Linked DNA regions of Homo sapiens. The protein of the gene in region 3 interacts with the protein of the main gene of each other region in a pairwise test. Each region holds a gene or a part of one and is shown on either strand. Other genes may lie near its edges.

Region 1 (6,878 bases), on a different chromosome or scaffold from region 3:
GCCCAGGAGTTCAAGGATGCAGTGAGCTATGACTATACTCCAGCCTGGGTGACATAGTCAGATTCTGTCTCAGGAAAAAAGAAAGAGGCCGGGCACGGTGGCTCACACCTGTAATCCAGCACTTTGCAAGGCTGAGGTGGGTGGATCACTTGAGGTTAGGAATTCAAGACCAGCCTGACCAACATGGTGAAACCCTGTCTCTACTAAAAACACAAAATTAGCCAGGTATGGTGGTGCATGCCTGTAATCCCAGCTACTTGGGAGGCCGAGGACGAAGAATCACTTAAACTTGGGAGGTGGAGGTTGCAGTGAGCCAAGATTGTGCTATTGCACTCCAGCCTGGGCAACAAGAGCAAAACTCCGTTGAGACAGAGGGAGAGAGAGAGAGAGAGAAAGAGAGAGAGAGAAAAGTAGTCATTTTTTAAAAGTCAGATCATGCCCTCATCTGCGCAAAACTCTCCAATGCTTTCCCAACCCAATTAAAAATGTTAGTCCTTTCAGTCACCTACATGTTCTCCTACCATTACTTCCTTTCTCTGTGACCTCATGTTATTCTCCTCTTTGTACTCATTGTGCTCCAGCCACACTAGCCTTCTTGCTATTTCTCAAATGCGCACTCAGGCTTCTGCCCAAGGCCTTTGCACTAATTCTCTTCATTAGAATGTTATTTGCCCAGGCATCTACATGGTTTATTCCCTCCCCTACTTCATATCTCAATTGTCCCCTTCTGGATTATGTCTTTTCTAACAACCTTATTTAAAAGTGAACCTTGCCCCTCACATCCTGGCACTCCCCATTCCCCTTCCCAGTTGTTTTATTCTCCACTGCATTTGTCTTCATTTCATTTACTAAGTGTTTTACATATTTATTTATTATCTCTCCTCAGTAGAATGCAAGCTCTATGACAGTAGGAATTTTTATATATTGTGGTCAATGCTGTATCTTCAATGTCCTGTTATATAAAAGGGACTCAACAGAGATTTGTTGAGTAAACGCGTGGGTGAAATGGAATATGAGAACCAATGACTGAAAAATGGACTGTATGGCTGATCTGGAGGGCAATATATGAAGTTAGTCTGAAAGAGTACCAGATGATGTCAGGCTTTATAAAGGAGTTTTGTCTTTAACAGTAGTAGGACACCACTGAATAGTTTTAACCAAGAGAAAATCTGATCAAATCTGCAGTTTCAAAAAATCATTCTGGCAGATATAATGGAGAACTAATGGAGGAGGGTCATTGTGAATAATTGCTACTGTAGTGGTCTTGAGAGATTATCGCAGTTTGAAGACAGGTGGAGAGAAAAATATATTTGAAGGATATTTTGAGAGATAAGGTTGGCAGAACTTCATAATAATTTGGCCATAGAAGTATGAAGGGCAAGAAGAAATAAAGAATAATGTTTAGCTTTCAAATTTTCACAAGTAGATGGATAGTAGTGTCCTTTGCTGAAATAAGGAACACTGAAAAAGAATTAGATTCATAAGAGATAACTATGCATTTGGTTTTAGGTATGTTGAGTTTGAGATGCTTTTGAGATATCCAAGAAGAAATATCCAAGAGATATTGTGAAAGCTGAGAGGTGAAGCTGAATGGAGCTATTCATTTGAGAGTCATAGGTGTTGGTGAAGCCATGGGTATACATGAGATCATATTTAACTACGGCATAAAAAGGCACCCAGCCTTAAGAAACTACCCGACCCTTTATGGGCTGGATAGAGAATGAAGATCCCAAAAAGGAGATGAAAACGGAATGGTTTTTGTTTTGCTTTTTCAATCACACTCATAAGTTATTCCCTTTTTAAAATTCAGATTCAAACTAGAAGTGTCAGAATGTAACAAGGCTTTTGAAATTAGACCAATTCATCAGAACTATGCATCTATTCAAAAATAGCTCACTTACAGAAACGATGTAAAGAATTCACAATACCTGTCTCTTTGTAGCTTCTAAGTGCATCAATACACAAAAAGCACCCTTCCCGTCCCACCCCACACCGCCAAGTATGCATGATTTGGCTTACTGACGTTTCCTGAAAGTACCCTATCTCTCACTCTGGGCCTTAGCATATGCTGTTCTTTTGGTCTTCATTTCCCCTGGGATGAAGATTTCCCTGACTTTCCAAGATTGGGCTAAGTCATCTCCTTCTAGACATCCCAGTGATATCATGTATTATTGTAACCGTATGTCTAACAACTAGTTCCTCTAACTAGTAAGACTGTCTTTTTCATTGTTGTATACTCAGTGCCTAGCAAGACGAAATTTTTAGAATTTAGTGCAATGCAATTCTGCAATGTAAAGAATTAAAATCTACACCGATTATCAGTCCACTGATGGCCGTTCAAACCTCGACTTTTCTCAAATAATAACTTTTTAAAAGCAAACTAATTTTAAGCAAATGACTGAATCTTTTGAAAAAGTCGACTAAGTTTTGGAGACTTTTACGGTTTTGCTTTCTTTTTCCTGCTGTATCCTTAAAGCCTGCAAGAATTCCTATCTAGGAATACTGGGGATTCTTTTACGAGATGGATTTGACAACTTGCTTTCAAAGCCCTGCCTAGGATTTCATTTGACTGAGCAAATAAAGCCCAGAACATCCCTAAGCAAAGGCAAACAAAGGTGCAAATGCGCGGAGATCCCAAATCCACCCCGCGTGTGTCCACAAAAAAGGGCGGAATCAGAGGCAGCAGCGCGAAGCTCCAGTTTCCACAGCATCCTTCCTTCTTGGCCTTACTTAGGCCGCTCCCTGCGACCCTTGGGATCAGGATCCCAAATCCTTGCCTCACCCACCACACCCCGCGCTTGGGCAGCTGGACTAGTCCTTCCCACGCAAGTCACTGGAAAAAGTCCTTGGACTAAGGGAGGCCACCCTAGATGGCTTTGTCTCCAAAATCCCAGAGGAAATGGAGGAAGGAAAAACCCTGTCAAGGAAAGGTGACAACCCAGCTTACAGTGCTTACCAAGCAGACGCTCTCAGTCAGCCCCTGCCACCGCTAACCGTTGGTTCGCGGGCACCCACAGGCAACGTCGCGGTGGCCCCTGGGGGTTGTAGTTTCTGTCGCAAACAAAACGCGCCGGCAGCATCGAAACTACATTCCCCACAAGTCAACGCGAAGACGTCCTACCGACTTAAATCTGGGGTTTGGAGTAATGAAGAGGCCGTCACTACTTTTAGGGTGATCTTAAATGTAGACTCAATTTCTTCCAGGAGTCCCTTCGCGCCCTCTTTCTTTGTCGTGCTTGTTTTATGTGTGACGAAGTCTCAGTGTACTTCTACGTCTTACTTTTTCCTTCCCCTTCTCCAGGACAGAGTCCAAACGTCCGGGAACGGAAACCGCCTCAGGGCGCAAGCTTAGCGCCTCCGGGGGCGCTTGGCCCAGTTCGCAGTCACGCATGCGTAGCAGCCGGCAGTGGCTGGCAGCCGCGCGCGGCGCACTTGGGGTCCGGAGGGTAGCCTGCCAGAGGGCGGGGCTTTTTCCTAAGGCTTTGCCTCGGCGGGTCGCGTCTGCCTGGGCGGGGAAGAAGGCGCTGGGGCCGGGGCGGCTCCCGGTTTGTGCCGGGCGGAGAAAGGGGAGGGGCTGGGGGTGAGGACCCCGTCTCCACTCCCTGCTCCCGCCCTCTGGGCTGATCCCCACCGATGGGGCTGGGCGAAGGGCGGGCTTTGCGCCTCGGGCCCCGCCGCCCCGCCAGCTCCGCGGCCCAGCCTGGCGCTCGAGGATTGCCAGGGCCGCCCTGTGCCCTCTGGCTCGGCGGTGGTGGGCGAGGGCTCAGGGATCGGAGAAGTAGCGTCTTCCCGGGGGTGCCGAATTGGCGGGGCTGGGGGACGCTTTTTTTCACCGCCGCCCGCCGAGACTACGGCTGCCCGAGACTGCCGCCCTCCGACAGCGCCCAAGCCTCCGGCCGCTGCGGCCAGTGGGCCAGGGTTCGGCGAGCCTTCCCTGCCGGCGCCGGCCGGCTGCTGAGGCGCTGGGAGGAGCTGCGGAGGGCGGGGACTGGTGTCGGAGAAGGGGCGGGGTGGGAACGCCGGAGAGAACCCGGTGGCTGCACAGACAAAAAAGCCCCGAATGGCTGGAGGGCGTTCAGCTGTTAACAGCCTTTTGGGGCAGAGCACGGATTTGACAGCTCCACAACGTGAGGATATCCACTGACCCCGCGAGACGGAGGAGAACGCTTCCCCGAAATTCTCTGCCCACCAAAGCCAGCGCTGCAAGGTTGCAACTTTCAAACTTTGTTTTTCCAGAAAGAAGACTGCCCTTTCGTGTACAAGGAGAGGGTGAGAGGGTGACCTAGCTTGTAGATCGGCTGAAGGCACCAGTGGTTCCAAATGTCACCCAGATGTGTGTTTTCATGACGATTTGATTTCTCTGATTTTATTTTTACATTTTTCATTTTAAAAATACAAAGCAATTTTTTTGGGGCATGCTGAAAGGTAACTGAAGACCGCAAAGGAAAAACTATTGTCATGGCTGAAGGAGAGAATGAAGTGAGATGGGATGGACTCTGCAGCAGAGATTCAACTACTAGGGAGACAGCATTGGAAAACATTAGGCAAACCATTTTGAGGAAAACCGAGTATCTTCGTTCGGTGAAAGAAACACCTCATCGTCCATCAGACGGGCTTTCAAATACCGAGTCTTCGGATGGGTTGAATAAGCTACTTGCTCATCTGCTTATGCTTTCTAAGAGGTGTCCCTTCAAAGATGTGAGAGAGAAAAGTGAGTTTATTCTGAAGAGCATCCAGGTAAGGAAGAGCATTTTAAATACAACTATGTCTCTACTACAGTTAAATTTTACTTGCCGTTATTCACGTTGTGTTTGTTTCTATTAGGTTGTTATGTAAACTTTTATTATGAGTTTACATCTTTAGAGTGTTCTGTAAGTAAACAAGTAGTGTTTTTCTAGAGTTTTAGGCAGAAACTGCTTTGCTCCTGGAAGAATATATGAAAACTACAGTTAATTCCAAGTAAATACTTGTTTTTCCTTATATTTCTTTTTACATGTTGTTGGAAAATGTAGCCAGTGTTTTTTTTTCACATTGTCACAGTGTTCTGAGTGTAAAGGCTCACATTTAAAAGCCTCTAAAATGATAAAGGATATTAAATGTTTCCTAGTCAGCCTGTTCAAGATAATTGGTGGAACAATTTTCTCTTATTTTTAAAAACAAAACAAACCAGGATGTGTTCTCTAAATGCAACCTCTCTTTTTTCAAGAAGAGAATTATATAAAATAATAAAAACCTATCTTAAAAGAAGCTAATATCTTCATGTTGAAAAGGTGGACCCAGGTGGGGTATTTGATAGAAACACTTTTATGGCAAATTGCTCAACTAGCTTTCTCTGTGTTTGCCTGAATTGTTTCTTTTTCACATGTGTAGCTATTTAAGATACGAGTGCAGCAGGTTAAAAATATTATAGTTTTTCCTCCATTTCGTTCATAATTTATCCTGTTTTATTACAAGGTGTCTTAGAATACTTTTTTTTAAGTTTTTAGATATTGACAATATTCAGCAACACCTTATATATGCTTGTCAATCTTTACATTTCTCAATCCACGTGTGTTGTCCAAAGTCCTGTATGAGAGATTTTTAAAATTTAAAATGTACTTGGGTAACTATGTAAGTTAAAAGTGACAGTTTTTATATACTGGCTTGAATTTAGTTTAAAGCAACAGAAAAATAATATCCACAAAATGAAGACTCTATTTAAGATCTTGGGATATTTCTTCTCACTAACACTTTGGAAACAATTGTTACAATTCAGAGTTACCCGAGAGGAATTAATATACTAGGTAACTGAAGTTTACCCTTTGAAACACAAAAAGTTATTTCTCTATCTTCTAGACTGTAGTGACTGTAACAACCATTTTTGTCCATAATGGGGTCATCATTATGCATATCAACTATTGTTGTGCAGCAAAGGGTGGAGGACTGACTATATGATCCATTAGTTTTTGTATTTTTGTGTGTAATTTTTATAGTTTTTCTGTTCTTTCCTTTGCCGTCAGGATACTTGACTTTGGTCTCTTCCTGATCTTTCATTTTGCTGCTTAATTCATATTAGAATGGGAAACCAGATAACCAATCGTGTTAAGAGTTATATTGAAAATAAAAGTAAGCAGGCTCTGGGGAGCATAGTATCAAAGGATTTCAATATAATGATAAATAAGTGGGTACTGGAGTCAGAGTTGGGCTCAAATTCCACTCCTTTACTAATGTCCTTGCCTGTAACCTTGGGCAAATTCCTTGACCTTTCTTAGCTTGGATTTCCACATCTGTAAAATGGGAATAACAACACAGAGCTCTTGTGGGAATTAAATCAGATGTAAAGTACTCTGGTATATATAGTAGATGCTCCTCTCCCTTTCATAAGTGAAATACATAGACTATGCAATATATATTTCAAGACTCTTTCATCCTGCAAAAGGACTCAGGAATTTCCTGGGAAGGTTCCCTATAGACTTATACTCTTTTTTTCCATCTCTGCATCTATTGTACAATTATAAAAGGCAATTTACTTATATTGTGTTATAAGCACATGCTTTTGTGTCTGTCTCCCATAGGAAGGCTATGAGTTCTTAAGAGTACTGGCTGGGACCTGGAAGCTACTAAATAAATATCCAGTGGATGAACAAATTTATACTTTCTTTCTGTTTTTCATCAGTAGTCTGAATAGATGAAGTTTTCAGTTTAGGGAGTTTCCACCCCAGCATCATTCATTTATGCTTGCAGTTATGCAACAAATGTTTATTGAACTCCTGCTGAATGTCATTCTGAGAACTGAGGACCAGTGGTAACAATTTTGACATCATACCAAAGGGAAACAGACCATAAAGAAGTAAACAAATATAAAATTTAATTTTAGATAGTAAGGGAAAGCTTTCCTG
Region 2 (7,762 bases), on a different chromosome or scaffold from region 3:
ATGCAGAAGATAAAAAAGTTGATCTCATAGCAGTGTAGAGTAGAATGGTGGTTACCAGACGCTTGTGTTGTTAGGGTGGACAGAGGAATGAGAAGATGTTGGTGAAAGAACATATAATTACAGTTGTATAGAAGGAACCTTTTTTAACTGTCCAGAATATATACAAACAGAAAGTGGATAAGTGATTTCCTGGAGCTGGATGTTGTTGGGGGAGGGGACAGTTGGGGGAGCACGAAGAGCTTCCTTTTGAGTAATGAAAATGTTCTAAAGTTGATTGTGGTGATGATTGCATAACTCTGTGAACAAATTAAAAACCACTAGATTGTTCCCTCTAAGTGGGCCAATTGTATAGTCACGTGACTTATATCTCAATAATGCTGTAAAAGAATGAAAGACATAAAGCAAAGGAAAAAGATGGTATCAGACGAAATACTACAAGGGCTTCATACACAAACTTTCCTATTACAAATCTAATTTTCCTACCATAGAGATAGCCATAAATATCCCTATTGTATCAGTAGGTCTAAGAAATAAAACTTACTGTAATCTCATGAAGACCCTTAATAATTCCAAATGAATGATGAGACTGCTTTTCCTTTCTCATATGTGCAAAGATTTCAGATCGATAGTATTGTTGTCCTTGCCTATATGGGCAGATGGGCAGTCTCACCTCCTATTGCTGAGAGAATCAATTAGTACAATAGAGCTAAAGAATAATTTCATAATAGCCACTGAATGGGCAAATATCTGGGCTCAGGTGATGTTGCCAGGACTCCGTAAATCTGCAAATGTTATTGAATTGTACCCTTAAGAGAGTTTTGTGGTTGGTGAATTATAATTCCATGAAGCTCTTTTTAAAATATTTACAATGCACATGGCTTGACATAGAAATTCCACTGTTTTGAATGCACACTACAGAAAATGTTTTTTTACCTGATAAGGGAAGTTGTAAGATTATAAAGAGTTCAATAATTATTATTGTTACTCATATTGTTTAAAGACTAGAATAATAGATAAGTAAGCTTTTATGTTTTACAGCACAAATTACTACAAATATTACAACAGAAGAAGCTACAGCTTCAGAGGAGGGGGGCTTCAAATTGCAGTCTACATCCACTCTACGGATCACAGCAGAGATGTCGGATTAACTCAAGAAAAGAAAGATGGAGAAAGAAAGCCCACTGGGATAAGACACAATTCCCAAACTCATGCACATCTCACCTTGATTGCTCTCAATCCATAATGTGGTTTATCTTCTTCCACAACCACATTAACTTTTTGTCCAACTTTTAGAGGCACGTTGCCAGTCACAACATCACTACTGAAGTAGATCGACTCATCAATCATGCCATAATCACCACAGAAACTTGTGACAACTCCCTGCACAGTTGTCAACTGGGTGTCACCTACAAGATAAAGAAACAAGGTCACATTATTAGCCTCAAATGCAAACACCTACTACAAGTAAGTCTTACACTCACCATCTGCATAACCCTGGGCAGAGAAGTTTTATAACGTCTCTGACCTTGTTTTCATCTGTCAATCCACAACAATCACAATTTCGCCTAATAGGGTTGTTGTAGGTTTTTAAAATATTTTTAAAAATTTATTAAAATTTAAAAATTTTAATTTTTAATTATTTTTTAATTTTTTGAGCAGAGTCTGGCTCTGTCGCCGGGGCTGGAGTGCAGTGGCGCAATCTGGGCTAGCGGCAACCTCTGCCTCCTGGGTTCAGGTGGTTCTCATGTCTCAGCCTCCCCAGTAGCTGGGACTACAGGTGTGTACCGTCACACCCAGCTAATTTTTGAATTGTTAATAGAGACGGGGTTTTGCCATGTTGCCCAGGCTGGTCTCCAGCTCCTGGCCTCAAGTGATCCACCTACCTGGAACTCCCAAAGAGCTGGGATTACAGGTGTGAGCCACCGCGCCCAGCTTACGAATATTAACTGACACATGCACATCAACTGTCGAGAGCTCTGAGTGCCTTGCACAAGAGTGTGTAAATGTTACCTGTTAGCATTTCTACATATGAGTCTTTAAGCTTCTGCTCCTATTATATTCCTTCATCATTATCACCAACATGATGAGTAGCACCTTCTATAGATACTTAACCATCTCAGCAGACAAAGTACTAAAAGATATCTGGAGATTGAAGGCTAGCCCAAAACGGCATCTGAATGGTTTTCTTTATTTCTCCTTCTTCTTCTTCTTCTTTTTTTTTTATTCTGCACAAGCCTAGCTGATCAGCAATACTTAGGGATCAAACCTCAGCAGTCGCCGGCAGGGGTTCTCTGCCTTCCTTTGGGATCAGATAAGTATGAGGCATCAACTTGGCTTCAAATTACATTCCCGTTTGGGATACAAGCCTAAATTAACTCGCAAATTAGGGAGTTTCTCGCCTACTGGAAATATAAATAGGCATGTGCTGTGCGACCACGTGGGGGAAAAGCACAGGCGGTACAGACCCCAAGGTCTTCTCTGTCAACACCTTCCCGCTTTAGATGGACAGGAGAGTTTGGGGGTTGGTTCTCAGGGAATTGTTGAGGACTCGGGTTGCCTCGGGTTGCCTCCCCATGCACGCACAAGATGGAGCCACCGTCACGTGCAGTACCCACCCGAGTTACAACAGCCTCATTCCGGGGGTGAGGAGAACCCCTATTGGGAGGCTTCTGGGGTGGGGGACAAGGGGACACACAGAGGAATACCTTGTGGGAGGCCCTGCTGCTGTGGGCCCTGTCGCTCTGCAGGGTCGGCCGTCCTCCCGTAGAAGGCCAAAGCAAGTCTCAGAAGCCTGAGCATCGTCCCAGTTGTCACCACCGGCCTGGGCACCGCTTGTGGCAGATGAAGCACGAGGCCTCCTCAGTAAGGGAAGCCCTCAGGTCACGGCGTCTCCTCAGGGACTCACTTCCTGCTTCTCCTCAGACACTGTGGCATGGGACCCACCCGTTAGTGAGCCCCCCTCAGGAGAGTCAGGGACACCGCAGCCTCCAAAGGAGCTCCCAGCTTCTCCGCTGACTTCTCCCTCTGAGCATGCGCTCGTCAGGGCCCGCCTCTACCACTGTCCAACCAATGGGCGTGCAGTGGGTGGGCGGGCAGGTTCTTGTGGCTACTAAAAGGCGATGGGTGGGAACATCGTGGCTTCTCCCATCAAGGCTGAGGGAGCCATTAGGATGGCCTGGGGAAAATGGCTTGGGAGCTTGGGTTCTGCATTTACTAAGGAGATACAGGGCTCTTCTCTTGGGTTCCCTGGGAGGATGGGTGCCTGAAACACCGGCTGTGCAACCAAAAATCCTGCTCCTGCCCTTGTATTCGTGGTGCTTAGCATAAGGAGTCACCACTCAGTGGGCGGTCAATAGTTACTCCTCACCAGGGATCAATTTTGTGGAGAGAGGGCATCATGTGGGTAGGCAATGTTTTAGTGATGGCAAGTACGTGTCTTGTGTACTAGGACTGCCATTTTTAGTCCAGTGATAATTTATAATAGAATCCTTTTATGATCATTGCTACCATGTACTCATCGCTTACCTGGTTATGCTTACATTACTCTGATATACACATTACCCTTATTCATTCATTCAGCAAAACTTGTAGGGCACTAACTGTGAACCAGACACTGTTCTGTGTTCCTAAAATTTGTTAATGAATGAAAGAGTCAAGAATCTTCACCCTGTGAGGGTAGATTTTTCACAGGATGACGAAAGGGTGACACTAAACATCACATAATAAAATATATGGTATGTTAGAAGGCAATAAATGCCATGGAAAAATATAGCAGGACAAGGGAGATCCACAGTGCTGGGCATGGGGTATTGGATTGCACTTTACAATAGCATGGTCAGAGTAGCCCTCATTGGAAAGCAATAGTTGAGAAAGATGTTGGAGTTAGCCAGGCAGCTATTTTTGGAGGAGCCGTTCAGACGGAGGGCACAGTTTGTGCAAAGACCATACAGCAAGACTGTGCGTGATGTATTCAAAGAAAAGCAGTGATTAGAGCAGAGGCAGTGAATAGCTAGAAGAGTGGGAAGTATGGTAAGAGAGATAATAGAGGTTCAGGCTGCATGTGGGATAGTGGGGCACTGGAAGTCCTTTGGCTTTTATTGTCCATGACACGTAAAGTCCCTGAAGGATTTGGAGCCTCCAGGGATCACTCCAGGTGCTTGGTTGTGAACAGGCTGGAAGAGGTCAGAGCAGGAAGCAAGGAGAACAGTTTGGATGATTCTGATGCAATCCATGGGCACTGTGGATGAAACCTGTTTGTCTTTCCTCTCCTACTGTGAGAACAGGTAAGAGCATTGCTGAAGATTATCATCTGGTTAACAGGATCGGTTGAGGGCTATCTATGTCTCAAAATGTAACACAACTGTGTTAATTTCCTAGGGAGGCCACAACACATTACTACGACTGCGTGGCTTTAAACAACAGAAATTTATTCTTCTGCAGTTCTGCAGGCTATGAGTCTGAAATCAAGGTTTCCGTGAGGTTGGTTCTTTCTGGCAAGCTCTGAGGGAGAGTTTATTCCAAGATTCCGTAGGTTGCCAGTAGTCATCGGTTGGCTTCCTTCGGTTGTAGATGCATCACTCCAATCTCTTCCTCCTTCATATCATGGTGCTCTTCTCCATCTGTCTGTGTGTCCAATACACCTCTTCTTATAAGGACACCACTCACTGGATTAAGGGTATATGACTAATCCCAATCCTGTAGGACCTCATCTTAACTTGATTTTTTTTTTTTTTTTTTTGCAAAGACCCTATTCAAAATAAAGTCACATTCACAGGTACTGGAGCTCAGAACCTGAGCATATCTCTTTCAGGGCAAAATTCAACCCACAGCAACTGCTCTTGTAAATTTTGATTACTCCAATATTCTATGATTATCAATGAAAAATTAGGACACACAGGTAAGCACACATTTCCTCTTATTTCTCTGAGAAAACACAGGCCATGAAACAGGAGCCCCTCTGTGAAACTCCTGGCACCCATCCTGGCTTTCTCTTCCTTCTCTTTTGTAACAATGGAAGGACATCGCAGCCCCTGGCCAGGGCTGAAACTCCACTGAGCACATGGAACCATTCTCTTGACACATTTTCTCTGAGGATGTTGCTTCTATTGCTGTTGCCTCTCTTCATCCTGCATCAACAATCTTTTTTTTTTTTAATCTTTGCCTGCAAAGGAATAACATACAAACATACACAAGAATCACCCATCTTAAAAACTTCACAAATAACTCCCATCTTAAAAATGTACATAGATAAATAAGCTTCCTTGGCCTCATTTCCCCTTCAGTCCCATTCTTCTGCATCCTGTCCCCCACAGCAAATGCTATTTCAAGAATCACCTCTGCTCACTTCCTGAGCTCCCATTCTCTCCTTATTCCTCTGGCATTAGGCTTTTACCCACATCATGCCCCTAATTTGCTCTTAAGATGACAGGAAACCTCCAGGTCTCCAAATCCAGTGGTCAATATGCTAAGCTCTCATCACTCAACCTCTCAGTGTTTGACGCAGGTGAGGACTCCCCATTTCTTGAAATAAGTTCTTTGGTCTTCTGTGTGACCACTCTCTCCTAGAAAGACTCCTTCTCAGCCTCTTTTGTGAGAAGTTCCTCCTATCAGGATTGCACAAGAGTGCTCCAGGACTCAGACCCTGAATGGCCTCTCTATCCACACACCAGCCCCATGGCATCTAAGTGCACGTACTCCCAATTCCATATGTATACTGAGTTACACACGTGATTATCCCATAGACGACTCAAGGGTAAGGTGTCCAAAATTTCATATGTCCTGAGCTTCCTTCAACCCCTTCACCTCCATAAATCTTCTCCATCTCACACGATGTCAGCTCAGTTCACACAGTGGGTTAACATCATATCCCTGCCATAACCCTTAGTTTTCTCCATTTTCTTTACACACTCCATGCCATCCATCAGCAAAAACTATCAATCCTTTGAAAACATACCTGTAGTCTCACCACCTCTAAAGAATGATTGAAAAAAAACATCACTGGGTCAAATGTTTTAGTTTCCATCATGGCACAGAAGAAAGCAGAAAGAACCGAAGAGACAGCAGCCACTCAGACATATGAAAACATGCCCAAAACCCTTTCATGTGTCCCTGCTGGCACAAATAGAGCTAATAACGGATGCTGCAGCAAGAGATTGGTGCTAAGAAATCGCCTTAGAAAGAGGTAAGAAATAGCCTTCTCTGGCAAACTTCACTAAGTCAGACTCAGCCTCCTCTGCAGGGTTCAAACTCTGTTGGCAGAGAAGCTACAGGTAGATTCCAGCACCAGGAAGACAGGTCCCTGCTGAGAGAATACTGCAGAACAAAGAAGGGGCTCTTCTATACCAACCTGCTGGAAACACTGTGAATGATCTTTGTGGTAGGAGGTGCCTCCAGAGGCCCGGAACACATCAGATAAGAAATGGCTGCTGGACCTGAATGCCAGGGGATGAATTCCACTGGGCCACAGAGCAGCTGTGCGCCCCCTCTTTCCTGTTTGTGTCCCTGACTTGGCTGTTGAATGGACACGACGCTACTGGGACTTCTTTCATAGGATTCTTTGTGAGCATTAAATGACGTGTGTGTCCCAAGGCCCTTAGCCCAGTGCTTGGCATATACAAGGGCTGGACACAAAGTAGATTAACAGCAATTCTGAACAAGGATGCCATGCACCCCATTAAACCTTCTCACATTTTAACTGTCTCCCATGAACAAAATGCACACCTTCACAAGTATCCATGAAGCAATCATTCAGTGCCAGATTCCAGCAAAGATATAACCATGTGATTCGCCTTCTTGGCTTCTAGTGACCTGCATGTTTCACTCTCAAATCAGGGAAACTGACTCCGACTGAAAATATTGAAAACCATCTGTCCGTGGTCACTGCCCTCAAAAACCTCTTATCACAAACACCTGCTTACTTTTCTTTCTGTCACTAACTGCTAGACGGAAATTCTTACTTATTCATATGCTTATCAGAGTATTTATTGTCGGTCTCTTCCCACTTGTATGTCAGCTTCATGACTGCAGAGCTTTTGTTCGTGGTTGCTTTTTCCATCTGCTGGGCCTTCAGCATCTAGAACAGTGCTGGGCACACGGTAGGTTCTCAATAAATACCACAGCAATTAATTGAATCAGAAAAGGGTAACATCCTGAACCATTCCAGCAACCTGAGAAAGGATCTGGTTCTAAGGCAATTCACACCAAATCTGAATACTTTGCTTTCCTTTGTGCATCTATCTAAACAGTACTGGGCCTCATTCAGAATAATGTTACAGCTGGCTGTAAACGTCAGAACTGTGGTTCGGAAGACGTTAGATCCCAGCTCAACTCAGCTGTTTCCTGGCTTTGCAACCTGTCCTCAGGGTCTGACACAGCAGCAACTTGTAAGTAAAATCAGCCAATAAATTGAGTTTTCTTGCAGATCAGTGATCCAGCCTCCCTCGTGCACATGAGTTGCACCATGGAGTAAAATGTTACTCCTTTCATTACAAAAGCTACACTGGAAATAAGTGTTGGACTAGTGTTTAGACAAATATTTCTATAAGAATAGAGTGACAAGGCTTTAAATGACATGTATCAATAAGTATATTATTCATTATGATTTAATGGATAGGGACAATTCCCATCGATGGGAATTTTGGTTTCCTCATGTGATGGGAGTTTTTCCAATTCATATCTTTGTTTTTCAAAACACAATAAGTGTTTGGATTGCTTTTATTTGTTACAGAATGTCAATGTCAGCTCTCCGTTGTCTTAGCTTTGT
Region 3 (6,935 bases):
TCGTCTGAGTTGTTAATGCCTATTTCCATCTTCTAATGTCTGGGCTCTAGGAAGGCAAGAATGGGTCTATAGCACAGGCCTAATACATAGCAATCGCTCAATAAACACTGATAATTAAATCAGTGAGGCCAGGCGTGGTGGCTCACGCCTGTAATCCCAGCACTTTGGGAGGCTGAGGTGGGTGGATCACTTGAGGTCAGGAGTTCAAGACCAGCCTGGCCAACATGGCAAAACCCCGTCTCTACTAATAATACAAACATTAGCTGGAGGTGGTGGCGTTTGCTTGTAATCCCACCTACTCGGGAGGCTGAGGCACGGGAATCACTTAAACCTGGAAGGTGGAGGTTGCAGCTAGCCAAGAGCACGTCACTGCACTCCAACCTGGGCAACAAAGTGAAACCGTGTCTCAAAAAAAATAATAATAAATAGAATAAATCAGTGAAAGAGCAGCACTCTAGCCTAAAGAGGAAACCAGACCTCTCGAGATGATGTCACAGCTAACAGTCTCAACAAGGCCAGGTGAGAAGTATACTTATCAGGGTATCTCCTCCACTCCCTGTCCATCTTCCCCCTCTTCCCTAAAGCAAGGTGAAGCAGCCCCCATGCCAGGCAATACCGTTTGCCTCCAAAGCTGGGCCTCTCATCATCCGAGTCTCGCTCTGCCCACACCCCGTAGGTGGCTTCTTCCTTGGTCTGCCAGTGGCGCTGTCGGTTGGGGTTGAACTCATTCTGGAGATCCCAGTCAGTGATCTCAAAGTTCTCCCGCTCGTCATCATCATCATCAATGCGGCCTTCCCCATCCCGGTATAAGTGGGACAATGACATGGCCAGTCACTAAAGGAAGAGACAAAAAGAGCACAGGCCGTAAGTCCTGGGGGCAGCAGTCGAAGGATTCCTTGTGAGTCTCTATTCCTTGCTGCTTTCAGAACTTTCTCCAAATTCAAAGTCCATTAAAGTCAGCATTACTATTCAATAAAAAAGATATTAAAAACCTACTTTTAGATAACAATCAGTACTAAAACAGGTGAACAAAATACTACTCCTAACAGTCTATGATTCTTTAAAAGTACATATCTCCTTGTCCTAGTCAATATCATAAATATCACACATATTCACACATACACAAACCACACAAAAATAACTAAGTAGGTTATTTTGTACATTATTACCTTAGAAAATGAGTAGGTATCTTCTTAGATCCCAGATTCTTTTTTCTATTACTGAGGAAAGAATTATATCTGGATCCTTGGTGGTCCTAGGAGAGTGATTTTTTTTAGAATATGCTTTTTGAAATACATTACTTGATGAAACAAAATTTTCAGTTTTCCTCACAAAACATGAATTTCTTCTGATGAACTGAAAGACTGTAGTAATTATGAACACTATTTTAATAGTCAGATGTCCAGAGATTGATATAGAGAATCTACCTCACAGTAGCTGGGTGACCAGATTCAGTTGTCTTTCTTAAATTGGGATTAACTACCATACCAACCTTAGAGAAGGCTTACAAAGCAAATTCAATGAGTTCAAAATAAGTGCTCAAGAAACGATAGCTTCTACTTTAGTCCCATGATTAGGTTAATCATTGTATTAGTCAGGGTTCTCTAGAGCGACATAACTAATGGAATAGACATACATATATAAAGGGGAGCTTATTAACTATTAACTCACACGATCAAAAGGTCCCACAATAGGCTGTCTGCAGGCTGAGGAGCAAGGAGAGCCAGTCAAGTTCCAAAGCTGAAGAACTTGAAGTCCAATGTTCGAGGGCAGGAAGCATCCAGCACAGGAGAAAGATATAGGCTGGGAGGCTAGGCCAGTCTCTCTTTTCACATTTTTCTGCCTGCTTATATTCTTGCCGTGCTGGCAGCTGATTAGATTATGCCCACACAGATTGAATTGAGGGTGGGTCTGCCTTTCCCCACCCACAGACTCAAATGTTAATCTCCTTTGGCAACACCCACATAGTCACACCCAGGATCAATACTTCGTATCCTTCAATCCAATCAAGTTGACACTCAGTATTTACCATCACAATCATCATTATTATTATGGGACTAGGGAGTAAACTTAGCAAAGTGACTGTAAAATCAGGCAGGCTAAAATCGAAGCCTGAGTTCAAATTCAACTCTATCAGATACCCAGTGTATGAGAATTAAATATGCACGTGAAGCGCCAAGCATGGTGCACTACACAATAATACACTCCATAGGTGACAGCAATTGTGATTCTTGTCTTGCTGAAAGCGGCCTTAAGGCACACGGAGTTCACTACTTCCACAGGCAGTGTCAAACTCTGGTCACCTCTGGCAAAACGTTATCTCTGCCTTCTTCTACTCACTGGTGCACCGGTTGGGTGCAACGGGTCCCAACCTCTTCCAGGAGTGTTTAGGACAGAAGGATTTTCAGAAAAGACGGGGAATCTCAAATACATAAAGTTAAATAATACCACTGCCTGCGTGGGCATAGTAAATGGTAATAAGCCCCGAGTAGTCACAAGTTATGAAGCCTTTATCAGTAGATGCTAGGTACATGCTGGTCGCTTGAGACCGATTATCAACTGTCTGCATCAAGACACTTCTGCAAGGTAGGTACCGTTAGTTTTCATGCTTCAGATAAGAAAAAGGAGGTTCAGAGAAGTTAGTAACTTACCCTAGGTTCCACTGCTCATAGGGCTCAAACTCAGGAGTGCTAGAAGTCAGGCCTCGGGCTTGTCTCTCTCTTGCTGTCTAGGTTTGGTGAAGGAAGCTCAGGTTCTTAAATGAATCCAAGCCCTAAATCCCAGTTGACCCCAAGCAGCACCGCCCCTCTCCGTGCCTCGGCAGAGCTGTCTACGAAATGGATTCCCCTCCCCACACCCCAACGGCTTGGACCGAAGCTCGCCTTCCCTGAGCCTTCGTCCCTACTCTCACTGGCGCTGAGTCCCCTTGTGGCCAGCCGTGCTCACCTGTCCGAGGGTCCAGCGTACCAAATTCAGCTTCACCATCCGCGCGAGAAGACGCCGCTCCTACACCAGAACCCGGAAGCACCGTGGCCGGCGCGCCGGAAATGACGTTAGTCGACAGCGGATGTCCTGCTGGCTGCCAGGGCAGCGTGGGACGCTACGGCGGATATGGCTGCAGAGCGGCCGGCTGGGATCTTAGATAGGAGGGGTGGATTTGCAAGGCCTAGAATAGCTGGGGAGTGGTTTCCCCGCGGAATCGGCCTCCCTGCCGCTCCTGCTTTGTACTGTGACGCTCAGCCTGTGATGACTGGTGTGGAATCCGCTGAGCCACCTTGGCCTAAGGAGACTTTACCACTCTGAGATTGTAAATCTGTAAAATAGAGATGTAGGATTAGCCCATACGGTAGTTGTGGTAAATACTGTGAGACAATAAGGGGCCTGGGACACAGCATTCAAATGGGAATAATGAAGGTCAAGACTGTGATTCCTGTATCTTTGACGCTCTCGGTATAAGCACCGTCGTGGGCACAGGGCAGTGGCCTTTATGCAGGAGTTTAAGAGGGAATGAAGGAATGAATGGGCAAACTCTGGAGTTCCCAAGTATTCTCTCCAGGAGCTGTTTCCATTCTTTTCGTTTCCAGCAGGTTGGTAAATTCATTAATTTATTCATTGATCTAATTAAAATATACTAAGTGCCCCTCACCTGTGCTAGGCCAATGTGATACAATGAGCAGAACAGTCATGGGCCCTCCCTGGGAAGCCCTCACTAGCCCAAGGACTCCTTGTAGACATTTAAGTGTCCACAGGCTCTGGAGTTCCAACCTTGAGTGCAATTTAGCAGCTGTGGACCTTGGGCAAGTCATTACATCTAAGCCTGTTTTCTCTTCTGCAAAATGGTTAAGGATTCAATAAGATAAAACTGTAGGCAATGAAAACCGTACCTGGTAACAGTAGGTGCTGAAGAAGTGTTAGCTATTAATTTTTGCTTAATTTTTCTCTCTCTGCTCTATGTGATGAAAAGATTCAAGAGGCAATTGTTGGAATGTAAAAAGAGCACGGGACTTGGAGTCAAATACTTAAGTCTACCATCAAGTAGTTGTTAAGAATTAAACAACAATTTTTGTGTACCCAGTTAAATGTGGGCTGCTTAGGAATGATGACTGTGTCTTAATGATCTCTGTATTCTTAGTGACATGTAGAATCATTGTGCCTGACACATAGTATGTACTCAGGAAAGAAATGGAAAATGTGGTTTTAGCATTGAAGGCCGGGAGAGAGGGTCTAACAGACTACAAGCCCTGCCAGGAGCAGAGTAAGGGAAACAGAGGAGAAAAGTGTTTTTAGTCTGTGCCTGAATGTATTTACATCTGTTTGTAGCCCAAAAGCCAAAAGCATACATACGCTTGGCTTTTCTGTAGCTATGTTTATGGCTTTACAGCAGATTTTATGGAGCTGCAATTACTTTGATCATGAGGGACTGATGCTAGTGGATTTACTTCACCAAATGGAACTCACTTTGTGGCTTCTGAAGAAGGGACCTTTGTGGACTGTCATGGAGTAGTTAAGAGTGCAGGCTCTGATTTAGTGATCAGAGTCTGCATTGTCAGGAATGGGACAAAGTGAAGTTATGTGGCACTTGATAGGATGCCCTGAGAAGATTGCAACATCACCCCTGTGATATTCCTGCTGAAGATCCATAACCTGGATGTAATCATGAGGATATATCAGACAAACCCACGTAAAGAGACATGCTGTATACAAAACTGTAATCTTAGAAAGTGCCAAGGTCATGAAAATCAAAGATAGACCCTGGAACTGTTCCAAACTGGAGGGGACCAAAGAGGCATGACAACTAAACACAACACATGATTCTGAACTGGATCTTTTTGCTTGAAAGGAAGTTACAGGGACAGTTGGAAAAGTTTAAATGGGGCCTACAATGCCGTGGTAATGATGTGTCCGTGTTAATTTCCTGATTTTCATGGTTGCCTGTTAAGTTACATCAGAGGATGTTCTTGTTTGCTGGAAAGTAAATCAATGTATTTGGCAGGGGATAAGGCATCAAATGGTCACCTTAATTTCAAATTATTACAGGGAAAATGTTTCTCTCTGTACTTAATAACTTTTTTGCAATTTCTTAAAATGAAAGCTCTGGAGTAAAAACTTCAAGGATCCAAATCTCGACTTTGCTACTTCTTAGGTATGGGCCCGAGGGCAGGTTGCTTCACCTCTCTACACCTCAATTTTTCCATCTGTAGATTGGGGATAGTGACAGTACTGATCTAAGAGAGTTGTTTAGAGAAAAACAAAAACAGAAAGTGATAATTAGTGCATGTAAAGCTCCTGGCATGGTAAGAGCTTTCTAAAGGATTGTGGCTATATTCTTATTTATTTATTTATTTATTTATTGAGACAGAGTCTCACTCTGTCGCCCAGGCTAGAGTGCAGCAGCACAATCTTCGCTCATTTGCAACCTCTACCTCCCAGATTCAAGTGATTCTCATGCCTCAGCCTCCCGAGTAGCTGTCATTACAGGCGCAGCTGTAGTGATTCTCATGCCTCAGCCTCTCGAGTAGCTGGCGTTACGCCGCCACGCCCAGCTAATTTTTGTTTTTTTATTTGTTTTAATTTTTTTTTCCCCCAGACAGAGTCTCACTGTGTCACCCAGGCTGGAGTGCAGTGGCACGATCTCAGCTCACTGCAACATATGCTTCCTGGGTTCAAGCAATTCTCCTGTCTCAGCCTCCTGAGTAGCTGGGATTACAGGTGTGCGCCACCACGCCTGGCTACTTTTTGTATTTTTATTAGAGATGGGGTTTCAACATGTTGGCCAAGCTGGTTTCGAACTCCTGACCTCGTGATCCACCTGCCTTGGCCTCCCAAAGTGCTGGGATTACAGGCGTGAGCCACTGCGCCAGCCTTCATTTTTAAAAACCCAATGTCATACCCCTTTCAGTCTCAAAAATCCATGGTTTTTCAGGATTTCTGGGATCAAATGCCCAGCCTTTGAAAAACAAGGAAAAGTTTTACAAGGCAACCAGAGCTTTAGGTTCAAGGTCTCATATCTATCGTGATCTCCTGTCATTTCCTAGAGGGGAAAAAAAAAAACAAAAACATTGCTTTGAGATTTGGGAACATCCACACTCATTTCTACATTCCCAATGAGGTGCTCAGACATGTGGCCTTCGCAGAAGGGGTTGCCAAAGCAACAAGGCTCCTTGGGCAGAAGGAGTCTGGCAGGGCCCTCCAGCACTCATGGGTCTATACCTCTCTTTTCGCAGCTGAGGCGGTGGGGGAGCCCCTGGCAGAGTGGAGGTGCCAGCACCACACAGTGAGTTTAAGGACAGGGCCAGGCCTGAAACCCAGGAGCTCAAACTCCCAGGCAGGTGCTTTCTTTGCAAAACCATGCATGGGGTCCCACATCATGATTCCTGTGTGTTCAGGGCCACAGAGCCAAACTCTGCAGACATCATCTCTTTGATTCTTCAGCCTTCTAAGGTAGTTTGTTATAACCCCAGAGTCCACATTCCTAACCTCTTATTTCTACAGCCTATGCCATACAGCACACTTTCCATATTGCCTACAAAAGATTTCGGGAAAAAAATATCGTCACTTAGTTACAACTTTAAATAGGTTGGTACCATAGAAACAATCCATAAGTGGCATTTCAAAGCTGATATATTTAAAGACTAGCACATGTACTTTTTCTAGGACAGTGACATTATACAGTTGCACATGGCTTATTCTTATTTTGCATTTTGTCCCAAAAATATATATGGTGTCCTTAACTTGGCAGAATTGAGAACCCAGATCAGCTGAGATTAGCAATTTGATTTCCCTCTAAATGTTTCTTACAGATGGTTTCTACCCTACTTATCTTTCAAGAATTCGTGAAGACTCTATCCTTATATGGAAAGCTGGAACATGAGGTTCCTTAGGCTCGGGGTGTTTATCTGGAAATTAAATATCCGCAAAACACAGTAAGGGGAGAA
Region 4 (7,026 bases), on a different chromosome or scaffold from region 3:
GTTTTCCATATCTGTGATATTACTTATTTCATATTTTTCTTAAAACTAACCAATTTTAACTATTAAACAAAGATACTTAAAAGAGAAACTTTACATCACAATTGAAAATGGAAAATCAGTATCAATTCCATAAACAAAAGCTAACCATAAAAACATCAGATGCCATTACCTACTGAGGGTTATGAGCCTGAGGCCTGCTCTCTTTCTTTTCTTTTCTTTCTTTTTTTTTGAGACACGGTCTCATTCTGTTGCCCAGGCTAAAGTGCAGAGGCACGATCATGGCTCACTGTAGCCCTGAACTGCTAGGCCCAAGTGATCCTCCCACCTCAGCCTCCCGAGTACCTGGGACCACAGGCATGTGCCACCACACCTGGCTAATTTAAAATTTCTTTTTGTAGAGACAGAGGTCTCACTATGTTGTCCAGACTGGTCTTGAACTCCTGGGCTGAAGTGATCTCCCACGTTGGCCTCCCAAAGTGCTGCGATTATAGGCATGAGGCACCACACCCCACCCCTGCTCTCTCTTTGTTGAAAAGATAGACTAGTGAGTGCTAGAGAATTAGGGACAAAATTCCTACAGGAGAGAGGGTAAACATAGGCACATCCACACAAAAGAATACGATGCAGCTATAAAACAGAATGTAGAGGTACTCTGTGAACTGACATGCTATTGTCAGGCACACATTATGTGAAAAAAAGCAAGGTTCTAAATAGACTATCTCAGCTTTTAGTCATTGTGGTAGCCCCCAAAAGCTATCCATGTCCTAATTCCTGGAAACTGTGACTATTACTTTATTTATTTATTTATTTATTTAATTTATTTTTTTGAGATGGAGTCTCGCTCTGTCACCCAGGCTGGAGTGCAGCGGCGCAATCTCGGCTCACTGCAAGCTCCGCCTGCCAGGTTCACACCATTCTCCTGCCTCAGCCTCCCGAGTAGCTGGGACTACAGGCGCCCGCCACCACGTCCGGCTAATTTTTTTGTATATTTATTTATTTATTTATTTAGAGACAGGGTTTTGCTCTGTCACCCAGGTTGGAGTGCTGTGGTGTGATCTCGGCTCCCTGCAGCATCAAACTCCCCAAGCTCAGGCAATCCTCCCACGTCAGCCTCCCAAGTAGCTGGGACTACAGGCATGTGCCACATGCCCAGCTAATTTTTATATTTCTTGTAGAGATGGGGTTTTGCCTTGTTGCCCAGGCTGGTCTCAAACTCCTGGGCTCAAGCAATCCTCCCACCTCGGCCTCCCAATGTGCTGAAATTACAGGCGTGAACCACTGTGCCAGGCCTGAATATTACCTTATATGACAAAAGATGTGATTAAGTTAAGGATCTTGAGATGGGGAGATTATCCTGGGTCATCCGGGTTGGCCCTAAATGCCACTACAAGTATCCTTTTAATAAGAGGGAGGAGAATATATTACCACAGAAAAGAAGAGAGGGCAATGCAACCATGGAGGCAGAGACTGGAGAGATGTGGCCACAAGCCAAGCACTGCCTGCAGCCACCAGGAACCGGAACAGGCAAAGAAGAGATTCTCCCCCAGAACCTCCAGAGGAGTACAGCCCTGCCGACACCTTGGTTTTGGCCCAGGAAAGCCGATTTGGACTCCTGGCCTCTAGAACTGTTAGAAAATAATTTGTCTTGTTTTAAGCCACCAAGTTTGTTAGAGCAGCATGGGAAACTAATAGTGTAATAAAGGGAGAAATAAGAATGTCTTTCACATTTGCTGGTATTTATATAAAGAAACTATGGTAATGTGGTTTGGCTCTGTGTCCCCACCCAAATCTCATCTTGAACTGTAATCCCCATGTGTCAAGGGAGGGACATGATGGGAGGTGACTGGATCATGGGGGATGTTTCCCCCATGCTGTTCCCATGATAGTGAGTGAGTTCTCATGAGATCTGATGGTTTAAAAGTGGCAGTTCCCCTCTTGCTCTCTCTCTCTCCTGCCCCCATGTAAGATGTTTGCTTTCCCTTCGCCTTGCACCATGATTGTAAGTTTCCTGAGGCCTCCCCAGCCATTCAGAATTGTAAGTCCATTAAACCTCTTTCCTTTATGAATTACTCAGTCTCAGGTAGTTGTTTATAGTAGTGTGAGAACAGACTAAGACACATAGGAAGGACACACAAGAAACTAAAGAGGCTACCAGTGGGGAGGAGGTGGATGGGATGAACGGAGATGGGGAGAGCCAAGACTTCTCAGACAAAGGAAGATGGAGGTGGAGGGGGCAGGTAGCTGGTGAAAGAGCACAGAAAGGCTGACTCAGAGAACAGCAGTGGCACCCAGAGAGCAGAACCCCAGGGCACACAGCCAGGGAGTCTGGCTGCTGCAGTCAGCCTCCCTCTAAGATCCCAATGTTCTCAGCAGCCCCATTCTTCCGGGACACAAACACAAGATCTATTGCAACAGCATTCCCCATTCTTATTGCCACCATCTCCCAGGCAGAATCTGCCAATGGACTACTCGTATCTACTCTCTGCCTTTTCCTTACTAACAGAACTCCAACTTTCTTTGAGGCCACAATGTGTCCTGCTAAAAGACTATGTTTCCCAGGATCCTTTGCAGCTGGCTGGGGCGTGTGACTACCTTCTGGCCAAGGAATGCTTTAGTGTTGTGTGGGATCTCTGGGATGGTGCCTTAAATGGAAGGGACGATCAACAGGATTCAGCAGCTCAAAGAGCAAAGGAAAAAAGTCAATATCCTAAGAAAGGTCTCCTTAATTGGTCTTACTCTCTCTTGTTCCTCTGGATAGCAGCATTTGTAATGGGCAATGTTGCTTTCTAAAAAACTACCTTAAGCAGACAACAAGTGTTCCCCTTTGTATGCAGTCAAATGCTCTACCACTGAGCTATACCCCCATGTTCCCCTTTGTATAAACTATTTTAGTCTTGCTGGTCATCTTGTCCAGAGCATGGGGTGGCATATACTGCTAGAAGTCCTTTTTTTCTTTCTTACTAATGTAACTCAAAATTTCTTCAGGCTGATTAAATGCCCAGTTTTTAAAGACCACAATTCCCAGCCTCTTTTCCAGTTGGGGTGACCAATGATGAAAAGGTGCCATTGAACGGGGTTTCTGGGAAGGCCTTATAAAGGGAGATGATTCAGTTTAGACCTGAACGCTTTTTGCTCTTCCTCCCTTCCCTTTTCCTCCTATAAGGAATGGTGGCAGTGGTGGCTGGGGCACTGGCAGCCACCTTGGATGGAAGCCACAGGCCAAGGATGGAAGCCACAGGCTAAGGATGACAGAGCAGAAAGAGGCCGGGCATGGTGGCTCACACCTGTAATCCCAGCACTTTGGTGGCCAAGGTGGGAGGATCATTTAAGGCCAGGTGTTTGAGACTAGCCTGGCCAACATGGCAAAACCCTGTCTCTACTAAAAATACAAAAATTAGCTGGGTATGGTGACATGCGCCTGTAATTCTATAATTCCAGCTACTTGGGTGGCTGAGGCATGAGAATCCCTAGAACCCAGGAGGTGGAAGTTGCAGTGAGCTGAGACTGTGCCACTGCATTCCAGCTTGGGTGACAGAATGAGACTTTCAAAAAAAAAAAAAAAGAAAGAAAAATAGTGATAGGACCCCTCATTTCTCATGACTGTGGAGCTACTATCCCAGTGCTGGTTTGCCAACCTCTGTACTTTCTGTATATGAGGGAAAATAAACCCTGTAATAGAATGTCTGCTGTCTCTCTCCACATGAGGATTACACATGCCCACTCCATTGACTTGAGGCTTGCTATATACTTGCTCCAGCCAAAAGAATGCCAGTGAAAGTGACACAGGCCACTTCTAAATATGAAATTGACCAAGAGCCACTGGGTGATTCACTCCACTTTCTTTTTTCCTCCTCCTGCAAGACCAGCAATACTCCAAATAGGGATAGTTTATTCAGCCTGAGACCCCAATTAAGATACTGTAGAGTAGGACCACAAATGACCTGCAAAGGACATAGTGTGAGCAAGAAATACACCTTTGGGCCACGTGTGGTGATTCATGCCTGTAATCCCAGCACTTTGGGAGGCTAAAGCAGGAGGACTGATTGAGCCCAGGAGTTCCAGCCTGGGCAACATAGTGGGACTTCATTTCTTTTTTTTTTTTTTTAGACGAAGTTTCACCCTTGTTGCCTAGGCTGGAGTGCAGTGGCGCGATCTTGGCTGACTGCAACCTCCGCCTCCCAGGTTCAAGCGATTCTCCCATCTCAGCCTCCTGAGTAGCTGGGATTACAGGCGTGTGCCACCACGCCTGGCAATTTTTGTATTTTTAGTAGAAATGGGGCTTCACCATGTTGGCCAGGCTGGTCTCAAACTCCTGACCTCAGGTGATCCACTTGCCTCAACCTTCCAAAGTGCTGGGATTACAGGTGTGAGCCACCGCGCCCAGCCCAATGGGACTTCATTTCTACAAAAATTAGAAAAATTTGCCTGACAAGGTGGTGTCTGCCTATAGTCGCAGCTACTCAGGAGGTTGAGGCGGGAGGACTGCTTGAGCCCAGGAGTTTGAGGCTGCAGTGAACCATGATGGTGCTGCACTCTAGCCCAGGTGATAAAGACCCCTTCTTTAAAAAAAAAAAAAAACAAAAAAACAAAAAACACCTTTGTTGTAGTAAGCCACTGAGATTTGAGAAGTTTGTTTGTGCAGCATAACTTAACCACACTGATTCCTATAGACCCCATAATTTGTTTAAGCAACTCTTATTGCAGGACTTTGTTACTACCAAGCAGATACAATTCTAAGTGATAGGTCCCCCATAAGAGATGACCCCATTGCCACTGTCCCTGAAAGGGCCTAAGACAGAGCTAATGAAAGCTAGCCAGGCATGGTGGCACATGCCTGTAGTCCCAGCTACTCAGGAGGCTGAGATGGAGCTGGTCCGAGTGTTGTGGGTTATTGTTAAGCTGATTTAACATTGTCTCCCCACACAACCATGCTTGACTAGCATAAAAATAAAAAAGAAAAATGAAAAAAACAAAAAAAAAGGAGGCTGAGATGGGAGGACTGCTTGAGCCTGGGAGGCTGAAGCTGCATTGAGCCATGATCGCACCACAGTACTCCAGCCTGGGTGACAAAGCAAGATCATGTTTCAAAAAAAAAAAAGAGAGAGTGAACTAATGAGTGTTCCCATTGGCTGCCAAGCAGGATTTCAAGTTATTTCCTGGCAGCCACTTCCCTCAATGTGTCTCATCTTATCTCTCACCTGGCATCCATGCCCTCTCCTAAGCCTCTTTTGGAAACTGCTTCTCATCTAACTCTTAACTAAGTGGCTTCTGCAAGACTGACTCAGGGGTAGGCCCTGAGGTGGAAATGGGCTAGTCACTAGCGGGTGCCAATGAAGACATGAAGTGATTTTTATACAGTCATCTGGCTGCTATATACAGTCGTCATCATTTTCCTCCTTATTATACATACAAAGCACTTAGAACAGTGCCTGGCATAAGGTAAATACTAAGTAACTATTGTTGTTGTTATGAGAGAGGTAAGAGTGGAAACGGGCCAGGCACGGTTGCTCACGCCTGTAATCCCAGTACTTTGGGAGGCCAAGGTGGGTGGATCACCTGTGGTCAGGAGTTCAAGACCCACCTGGCCAACATGGTGAAACTCCATCTCTACTAAAAATACAAAGAATTGGCTGGGTGTGGTGGTGTGCACCTGTGGTCCCAGCTACTCAGGAGGCTGAGGTAGGAGAATCACTTGAACCTGGGAGGCAGAGGTTGCAGTGAGCCGAGATCATACCACTGCACTCCAGCCTGGGCGGCAGAGCAAGACCCTGTCTCAAAAAAAAAAAAAAAAAAAAGATGATGGCAGCCTGGACTACATGATGACAGTGGATGTGATGAGAAGTAGTCTGGGAATGTGTTTTCCTTATTTCTTATTTATTTATTTTGAGACAAGGTCTCACACGGTTGCCCAGGCTAGAGTACAGTGGCACAATCACAGCTCACTGCAGCCTCGGCTCCTGGGATCCAGTGATTCTCTCACCTCACTGTCTCATGTAGCTGGAACTACAGGTGTGTACCACCACGTCCAGCTAATTTTTTACATTTTGTAGAGATGGGGTTTTGCCACGTTGCCCAGGCTGGTCTCAAATTGCTGGGCTCAAGCGATCCTCCTGCCTCGACTTCCCAAAGTGCTGGGATTACAGGTGTGAGCCACCACGCCCAGCCTATCTTTCCTTATTTGTTAATGATTTATTTAGGAATTTCTCATTTGTGTTTATAACTGTCTTGTCAAGGTGTTAGAGATTTTGTTGTGGTTGTTGCAGGATGGAGAAATGTCTTGAGGGTAGAGCCAAAGGGTGGGTTAATGGACTAGCGGTGAATGAAAAGGAAGGATCATGGGTAACTCCCAGGTCACGTACTCAGTTCCTCAATGTTTGATCCCTCACCTATCCATGAGCTCTGTCATGGCAGAAACAAGATCTGTCAGGATTCTTTGTGTCCAGCAGGGGCTTACTTGCTTCTCCAAGAAATACTCAAAAAGTTGCTGAATTAATCAATGTTGCCAGAGTCATACACAGGCTTAAAGTCCCTTTGGCCCTACACCAGGGTCCCTCAAAGGATCCGTGACACATGGACTGCTGGCTTTCCTGGAGAGCCCATCTGAAAGGCATTCACCAAATCCACCCAACGAATCTTTACTAAGAACCTACTATGTGCCAGGCAATATTCTAGAGGTTGGAGACACAAACAGGAGGAAAGAAGAAAGACAAAGAAAGACAAAACCTCTGGCTTGATTGAACTGATATTCTAGTGGGGGAGATAATGAATGAATACATCGAAAACGCAATATGCAGACAGTGATGTGTTAAAGAGAAAAATAAAGCAGGAGACAGAGAGAATCGTGTGTGTGTTTGGGTGTCAGTTACAGTTTTCCATAGGGTGGTAGTCATAAAGGCAAGAACTTTGAAATCAGAGGGAATCACACAGGCAAAGTCCCCAGGGCAGCAACATGCCTGCCACACTACAGGAACATGAAGTAGGCCAGTGTCACTGGTGTGAAGGGCAGGAGGAAAGAGATGAGGTCAC

The links.
Region 1: the proteins of TFIP11 (region 3) and CEP57L1 interact in binary tests that used the Homo sapiens proteins (3 or more experiments, as listed by UniProt).
Region 2: the proteins of TFIP11 (region 3) and CT55 interact in binary tests that used the Homo sapiens proteins (3 or more experiments, as listed by UniProt).
Region 4: the proteins of TFIP11 (region 3) and THAP8 interact in binary tests that used the Homo sapiens proteins (3 or more experiments, as listed by UniProt).

The regions. Positions count from the first base shown.
Region 1 is NC_000006.12:109,091,654-109,098,531, reverse strand, and holds the start of CEP57L1 (centrosomal protein CEP57L1), read right to left. Parts: upstream 3,026-6,878; 5' UTR 2,957-3,025; intron 1-2,956. Other genes in the region: SESN1 (sestrin-1), read left to right, coding at 4,459-4,737. UniProt on the Homo sapiens protein: Centrosomal protein which may be required for microtubule attachment to centrosomes.
Region 2 is NC_000023.11:135,168,373-135,176,134, forward strand, and holds the start of CT55 (cancer/testis antigen 55), read right to left. Parts: upstream 3,027-7,762; 5' UTR 2,800-3,026; coding exon 2,706-2,799; intron 1,407-2,705; coding exon 1,222-1,406; intron 1-1,221. UniProt on the Homo sapiens protein: Plays a role in spermatogenesis, possibly acting in the regulation of the autophagy pathway.
Region 3 is NC_000022.11:26,509,448-26,516,382, forward strand, and holds the start of TFIP11 (tuftelin-interacting protein 11), read right to left. Parts: upstream 3,027-6,935; 5' UTR 2,986-3,026; coding exon of another isoform or gene 2,947-2,985; intron 2,729-2,946; coding exon of another isoform or gene 2,652-2,728; intron 1,871-2,651; exon of another isoform or gene 1,672-1,870; intron 1,256-1,671; 5' UTR 1,170-1,255; intron 835-1,169; 5' UTR 826-834; coding exon 617-825; intron 1-616. UniProt on the Homo sapiens protein: Involved in pre-mRNA splicing, specifically in spliceosome disassembly during late-stage splicing events. Intron turnover seems to proceed through reactions in two lariat-intron associated complexes termed Intron Large (IL) and Intron Small (IS).
Region 4 is NC_000019.10:36,044,279-36,051,304, forward strand, and holds part of THAP8 (THAP domain-containing protein 8), read right to left. Parts: intron 6,840-7,026; exon of another isoform or gene 6,547-6,839; intron 4,942-6,546; exon of another isoform or gene 4,868-4,941; intron 2,070-4,867; exon of another isoform or gene 1,431-2,069; intron 1-1,430.